2 linked regions of the Homo sapiens genome follow. The protein of the gene in region 2 purifies or fractionates together with the protein of the main gene of each other region. This does not show direct contact. Each region holds a gene or a part of one and is shown on either strand. Other genes may lie near its edges.

Region 1 (3,500 bases), on a different chromosome or scaffold from region 2:
TTCTTTAATGACATAATAGCATAGCAAAAATCACTATTTTTCACTAGTTTTTTTCTCTCTCCCCTTTCCCGCAACTCTCTTCCAGACCCAGCAACCTAAAGAAGATGGAGTTTATGTTTTTCATCCCCATAGTCAGCCAGTTAGCTGTCTTTACTTCTCACCCGCCAATCCGGCCCACATACTGTCACTGAGCTATGATGGCACGTTACGCTGTGGGGATTTTTCCAGGGCTATTTTTGAAGAGGTAAATGTTAATGTGTTTACATGCTGACTTCAGATGATATTCTAGATTCTTCGAAATGCCACATGAATAATTATTATACCAATTGGGAGAAGTGGTATAGCAGAAGGACTTTGAGAACTACGCTGCCTAAGTTCAAATCCCAGATCATCTGTTACTAGTTGTATGACCTTGACAAGTTGCTTAACCTTGTTGTGCCTCACTTTCCTTAGCTGTGAAATGGGATTTAACAGGACTGACCTTACAGGGTTGTCATGAGAATTTAATGAGCTTATGCAGATAAAGTACTTAGAAGAGAGCCTGGCACATAGTATGTGTTTGCGCTTGTTAAATTTCTTTTTTTTTTCTCTCCCAAAGCTTTTAACTAAAATAACTTACTCTTCTGTTTTTAGGCATAAGACTTGTATTTAGCTGGGTGTGGTGGCTCATGCTTGTAATCTCAGCACTTTGGGAAGCCAAGGTGGGAGACTCACTTCAGGCCAGGAGTTCCAGACCAGCCTGGGCAACATGGCGAGACCTTGTCTCTACAGAAAATAAAAAATATTAGCTGAGCTTGGTGGTGTGTGCCTGTAGTCTCAGCTACTCAGGAGGCTGAGGTGGGAGAATCACTTGAGCCCAGGAGTTCAAGATCAGCCTGGGCAACATAGTAAGACCTTGTCTCTAAAAAAAATTAGCTTGGTGTGGTGGCATGTGCCTGTAGTCACAGCTACTCAGGAGGCTGAGGTGTGAGGATTGCTTGAGCCCAGGAGATTGAGGCTGTAGTAAAGCCGTGATCACATACATCATTGCACTTCAGCCTGGGTGACAGAGTGAGACCCTCTCTCAAAATAAGACATCTTCTACTTAATGTTTAAAACAAACATATCATTTGAAATGAACTTTCAGATTTGCTTAACTGTATCAGATTGCCTCAATAAGATAAGTCTTATAAGTTGAACTTTTTTATTTTATTTTTTTTGAGACGGAGTTTTACTCTCGTCACCTAGGCTGGAGTGCAGTGGCGAGATCTCGGCTCACTGCAACTTCTGCCTCCCAGGTTCAAGCAATTCTTCTGCCTCAGCCTCCTGAGTAGCAGGGATTACAGGCACCCATCATCACGCCCGGGTAATTTGTTGTTGTTGTTGTTGTCGTCGTTGTTGTTGTTGTAGAGATGGAGTCTCACTCTGTCGCCCAGGCTGGAGTGCAGTGGTGCGATCTTGGCTCACTGCAAGCTCCGCCTCCCAGGTTCAAGTGATTCTCCTGTCTCAGCCTCCTGAGTAGCTGGGACTACAGGCGCATGCCACCATGCCAAGCTAATTTTTGTATTTTTAGTAGGGACGGGGTTTCACCATGTTGACCAGGCTGGTCTCGAACTCCTGACCTTGTAATCCACCTGCCTCAGCCTCCCAAAGTGCTGGGATTACAGCGTGAGCCACTGTGTGTGGTCAGATTTGCCTCTTCTGGACATTTCATATAAATGAAATCATACAATTTGTGGTCTTTTGTGACTGGTTTCTTTAACAAAATGTATTCAAAGTTCATCCATGTTGTAGCCGTGTATCAGTACTTCATTCCTTTTTATGGCTGCATAATATGCCATTGTATGGGTATTCCACATTTTATTCATCTGTTCATCAGTTGATGAACATTTGTGTTTCTATTCTTTCTTTATATATTTATTTTTGAAACAGAGTCTCGCTCTTGTTGCCCAGGCTGCAGTGCAGCAGTGCAATCTTGGCTCACTGCAACTTCCACCTCCCGGGTTCAAGCAATTCTCCTGCCTCATCCTCCTGAGTAGCTGGGATTACAGGCACGTGCCACCACACCTGGCTAATTTTTGTATTTTTAGTAGAGACAGGGTTTCCCCATGTTGGCCAGGCTGGTCTTGAACTCCTGACCTCAGGTGATCCACCCACCTTGGCCTCCCAAAGTCTTGGGATTACAGGTGTGAGCCACCACGCCTGGCCTTACTTATTTTTATTTTTTGAGATGGGGGTCTCACTCTGTCACTCCAGCTGGAGTGAAGTGGCTTGATCTCGGCTCACCGCAGCCTCTGCCTCCCAGGCTCACGTGATCCTCCCACCTAAGCCTCCTGAGTAGCTGGAACTATAGTCATGTGTCACCATGCTTGGCTAATTTTTGTATTTTTAGTAGAGACGGTGTTTTGCCATGTTGCCCAGGCTGGTCTCAAACTCCTGAGCTCAAGTGATCTGCCCACCTTGGCCTTCCAAAGTGCTGGTATTACAGGCATGAGCCACCGCGCCTGGCTGTAACTTACATTTCAATAAGCTTGACTTTAAAACAATAGGTGGAGAACTCCTATAGCTTAATTAAAAAAGCTAACCCAATTAAAAAATGGGCAAAGGATCTGAATAAACATTTCTTTAAAGAAACACAAATGGCACCGGGTGCGGTGGCTCACCCCTGTAATCCCAGAACTTTGGGAGGCTGAGGCGGGTGGATCACCTGAGGTCAGGAATTTGAGACCAGCCTGGCCAACATGGTGAAACCCCATCTCTACTAAAAATACAAAAATTAGCCAGGCGCGGTGGCAGGCACCTGTAGTCCCAGCTACTGGGGACGCTGAGGCAGGAGAATCGCTTGAACCCGGGAGGTGGAGTTTGCAGTGAGGTGAGATTGCACCACTGCACTCCAGCCTGGGCGACAGAGCGAGACTGTCTCAAAAAAAAAAAACAAAAAAAAACAAAAAAACCCCACAAATGGCAAATAAGCACATGAAAAGATTCTAAGCATCATTATTCATTAGGGAAATGCAAATCACAATGAGATACCCCTTTACACTCACTAGGATAACGATACTTGCCAGTAATAAGTGTTGACAATGATGTGGAAAAATTGAAACCCTCATATTTTGAGAATTGGTATGTGAAATGGTAAAGTTGGTTGGGGAAAGTTTGACAGTTCCTTAAATGTTAAACAGAGTTACCATATGACCTAGCAATATCCCTCCTAGGTATACACCCAAGAGAAATGAAAGCACATGTCCACACAAAAACTTGTACGGGAATGTTCATACAAGCATTATTTGCAATAATACAAAGAATAGGTTGGGCATGGTAGCTCACACCTGTAATCTCAGCACTGACAGAGGCCGAGGAGGGTGGATCACTAGAGCTCAGGAGTTCAAGACCAGCCTGGCCAACATAGTGAAACCGCACCTCTAAAAGAATACAAAAATTAGCTGGGCGTGGTAGCATGCGCCTGTGGTCCCAGCTACTTGGGAGGCCTGAGGCATGAGAATCACTTGAACCTGGAAGGG
Region 2 (3,306 bases):
GTGGGCAGATCACAAGGTCTGGAGTTTGAGACCAGCCTGGTCAATATGGTGAAACCCTGTCTCTACTAAAAATAAAAAAATTAGCCAGGCGTGGTGGTGGGTGCCTGTAGTCGCAGCTACTCGGGAGGCTGAGGCAGGAGAATCACTTGAACCCGGGAGGTGGAGGTTGCAGTGAGCTGAGATTGGCGCCACTGCACTCCAGCCTGGGTGACAGAGCGAGACTCCGTCTCAAAAAAAAAAAAAAAAAAAGATGTAAGAAGTAAATGGTAATAATATATTGATGGGATAAACATATCGTAAGGTCTTGACATGAAATTGCTCTATACCCAGAAGAATGTTTATTAAGTACACCAACTGTATGTCTATGAAGGTGACCACATGGTGGCTCCCATCCTTAAAAGCTCAGTGGTTGTCAAAGGTGTATGATGACATTGGTTCTTGCAAGTGTCATTAAATAAATGTCTTGCACTGGGCATGGTGGCATGTGCCAGCAGTTTGATCTATTCAAGAGGCTGAGGCAGAAAGATTGCTTGTGCCCAGGAGGTTGTGCTATGATGGTGCCTGGTGAATAGTCATTGCGCTCCAGTCTAGGCAAGGTAGCAAGACACTCTCTCTTTAAAAAGAAAGAAAAGTCTCATGTAGAAGGATGAAGTGAAAAGTTTCATAAGCCAAGTTAGTCTTATTTTTGGATATGACGTCCCAAATATCTGTTGTGTCTCACATCTAGAACACAAAGCAGTCTCAGAATTTTGCCAGCCAAAAGTAAAAAGAACTTTATACAAATTATGAGTATAAATTAGTAGTTTCAAAGACCAGAGTCTTTATGAATTTATTATAAAATAAATAATAGAGCATTGACAGATTTATCAGTAAGGCATAGGAAAAGAAGGGTTGATTGATAATATATGCAATTCACATTATGAAAGGAGTAGTCAGCTAGAGAAAAGGATTTTGAAATGGAAACCTGACTTTTGCTTAGTTAGGAAATAGGGAACGAAGTGGCTGACCTGTTCAGTTTACAGCATGGAAGATGGAGGGAAAATAGGAATAGAAATGAGACATAAGGACTAAATTAATTTGTTCTTATTAAATTTGGTCTGGGAAATTCTTAGTATGCATTTCTTGTTTTTTTAGGCCTTAGGACATTTCATTTGTGATAATTAGAGATATCAGGTGCTTATTAAGCAGTTCATGAAGTGTATAGTGGTTGACTTATAGGACAAATATTTTCATGTCTTGTGCTGGGAATTGTATCATGAGGTCTTAGTCTTATAGGTTGGATTCAGAAGAGAATCTGAATTTAAACTCAAAAGTAACTGCTTTAAGACTCAGTTTAACCTTGGGAAGGTAGTATTGTATAGTGTGTGCTTATAGGTCTGAAGCCAGACTGCTTGAGTTTGAACCCCAGCTTTTTATATTCATCCTAGTTAGGTCTTTGGATAGGAAGGTAAACCTCTTGGCCTCATTTTTATCATGTGTAAAATGGGATAATAATGGAGCCTATCCAAGAGGATTATTTTAAAGATTAAATAATTAGTCGATATGAAGTATTTAAAAAGAGTGCCAGGAATATAATCAGCAATCAATTTTTAAAATGTGAAACACATTACCTATCATTATCTATCCATTACTGCTTATTAGAAAACAGGAATTTTAAGCCTGCTGTGCATTTAACTAATACATGTTTATGTTTATAGGTGGTGAAATTGCCTCTACCTTTGATCACCCAGAACTGGTGAAGCTTGGAAGTTGCAAACTTATCGAGGAAGTCATGATTGGAGAAGACAAACTCATTCACTTTTCTGGGGTTGCCCTTGGTGAGTGATTATGTAGATCCTGGTTAGGGTGTCTAAATTCTTGCTAGGCTCTGTTGAAGTAAAGGTTATTGTAGTTACTAGAATAGCATATCTTACAAGTCTTAACTCTTCAGAAGCATGATACATACTTTGTTTCAGTCTCTTGAGTCAACCTCATATTTACCGTGTCTTTGTGAACAGTGCATGTTCAACAGTTTTTTTTCCTTGATAACTTAGAACCATTATGAGCCTTGATTGTTGGAGAATGTATAATACAGGAAGACAGGTCAGCTTTCAGAACCCAGTAATATAACCAACACCGGCATAAATAATAGAAGGCAAACTTTTTATCCCTAAGTGGTCACTGTGTCTTTTAATTTTAGGTGAGGCTTGTACCATTGTTTTGCGTGGTGCCACTCAACAAATTTTAGATGAAGCAGAAAGATCATTGCATGATGCTCTTTGTGTTCTTGCGCAAACTGTAAAGGACTCTAGAACAGTTTATGGAGGAGGTAAGCATTTAGAAAATGTTGAATATATTTTTAATTTCTTAAAGTACAATATAAGTCATAAGTGGTTTTAATGGTTCTTACAGAAATCTTATATTGCTTTTGCACTAAATTTTAAAATGCTTGGCATATCTTAAAGTCAGTAATTCAGTATCTTGGAGACAACTAAGCATTGCAATATTTTATTGGAATTTTAATCTTTAGGCTGTTCTGAGATGTTGATGGCTCATGCTGTGACACAGCTTGCCAATAGAACACCAGGCAAAGAAGCTGTTGCAATGGAGTCTTATGCTAAAGCACTGAGAATGGTAAGTTAATCAAAATGAGAGATCCGAACTTAAGTTTTGTGGTTATTGATAGTTTTAAAATGAGTAGAAAATGAACTGGTTAATACTGCTTTTAAATTTGATTCTGGAGTTTCTCCTCTTCGTGAGCAGTAACTGAAGCAGATTTTACATTGTTCCTAAATGTATAATTTTAAAAAGCTATCCTAGTTAGGAGTAAATCAGTGGTTCTTACAGTAGAGTGAGTAGTTACTTGTTTTCTTCATTTTCATAGTTGCCAACCATCATAGCTGACAATGCAGGCTATGACAGTGCAGACCTGGTGGCACAGCTCAGGGCTGCTCACAGTGAAGGCAATACCACTGCTGGATTGGGTAAGCAATCAAGGGGAACTTTGTGGCCGTTGTTAAAAGTAACTCTTTTCACTAAGCTTTTTTTTTCTTTTGGAACATAAAGAGTTACAATAACCGTATAAAAGACTCTTTTGGACTTTGTCCTCATAATCATTACATGTGCTGGGAAAATGTGTGTGACTTTATATGCTCAGCATTTCCCAAACTTTGTTATTCCATAAGACATGTAAAACTGGTTAGAAGATTTGTAACTATTTGGTATATAACGACTATAGGATTTAAATATAAACAATACTTACATTCTGAAAAATAACATAAACTATTATGTTGTTTATACAATCAGTATTAACTTCTAATTTCATAG

The links. Proteins that work in one complex are often made in the same cells at the same time.
Region 1: the proteins of CCT2 (region 2) and WDR76 purify together in Homo sapiens (affinity purification with mass spectrometry; 4 studies listed by BioGRID and IntAct, with this or other methods). This does not show direct contact.

Annotation. Positions count from the first base shown.
Region 1 is NC_000015.10:43,851,002-43,854,501, forward strand, and holds part of WDR76 (WD repeat-containing protein 76), read left to right. Parts: intron 1-85; coding exon 86-244; intron 245-3,500. UniProt on the Homo sapiens protein: Specifically binds 5-hydroxymethylcytosine (5hmC), suggesting that it acts as a specific reader of 5hmC.
Region 2 is NC_000012.12:69,595,459-69,598,764, forward strand, and holds part of CCT2 (T-complex protein 1 subunit beta), read left to right. Parts: intron 1-1,697; coding exon 1,698-1,817; intron 1,818-2,179; coding exon 2,180-2,308; intron 2,309-2,509; coding exon 2,510-2,613; intron 2,614-2,863; coding exon 2,864-2,963; intron 2,964-3,306. UniProt on the Homo sapiens protein: Component of the chaperonin-containing T-complex (TRiC), a molecular chaperone complex that assists the folding of actin, tubulin and other proteins upon ATP hydrolysis.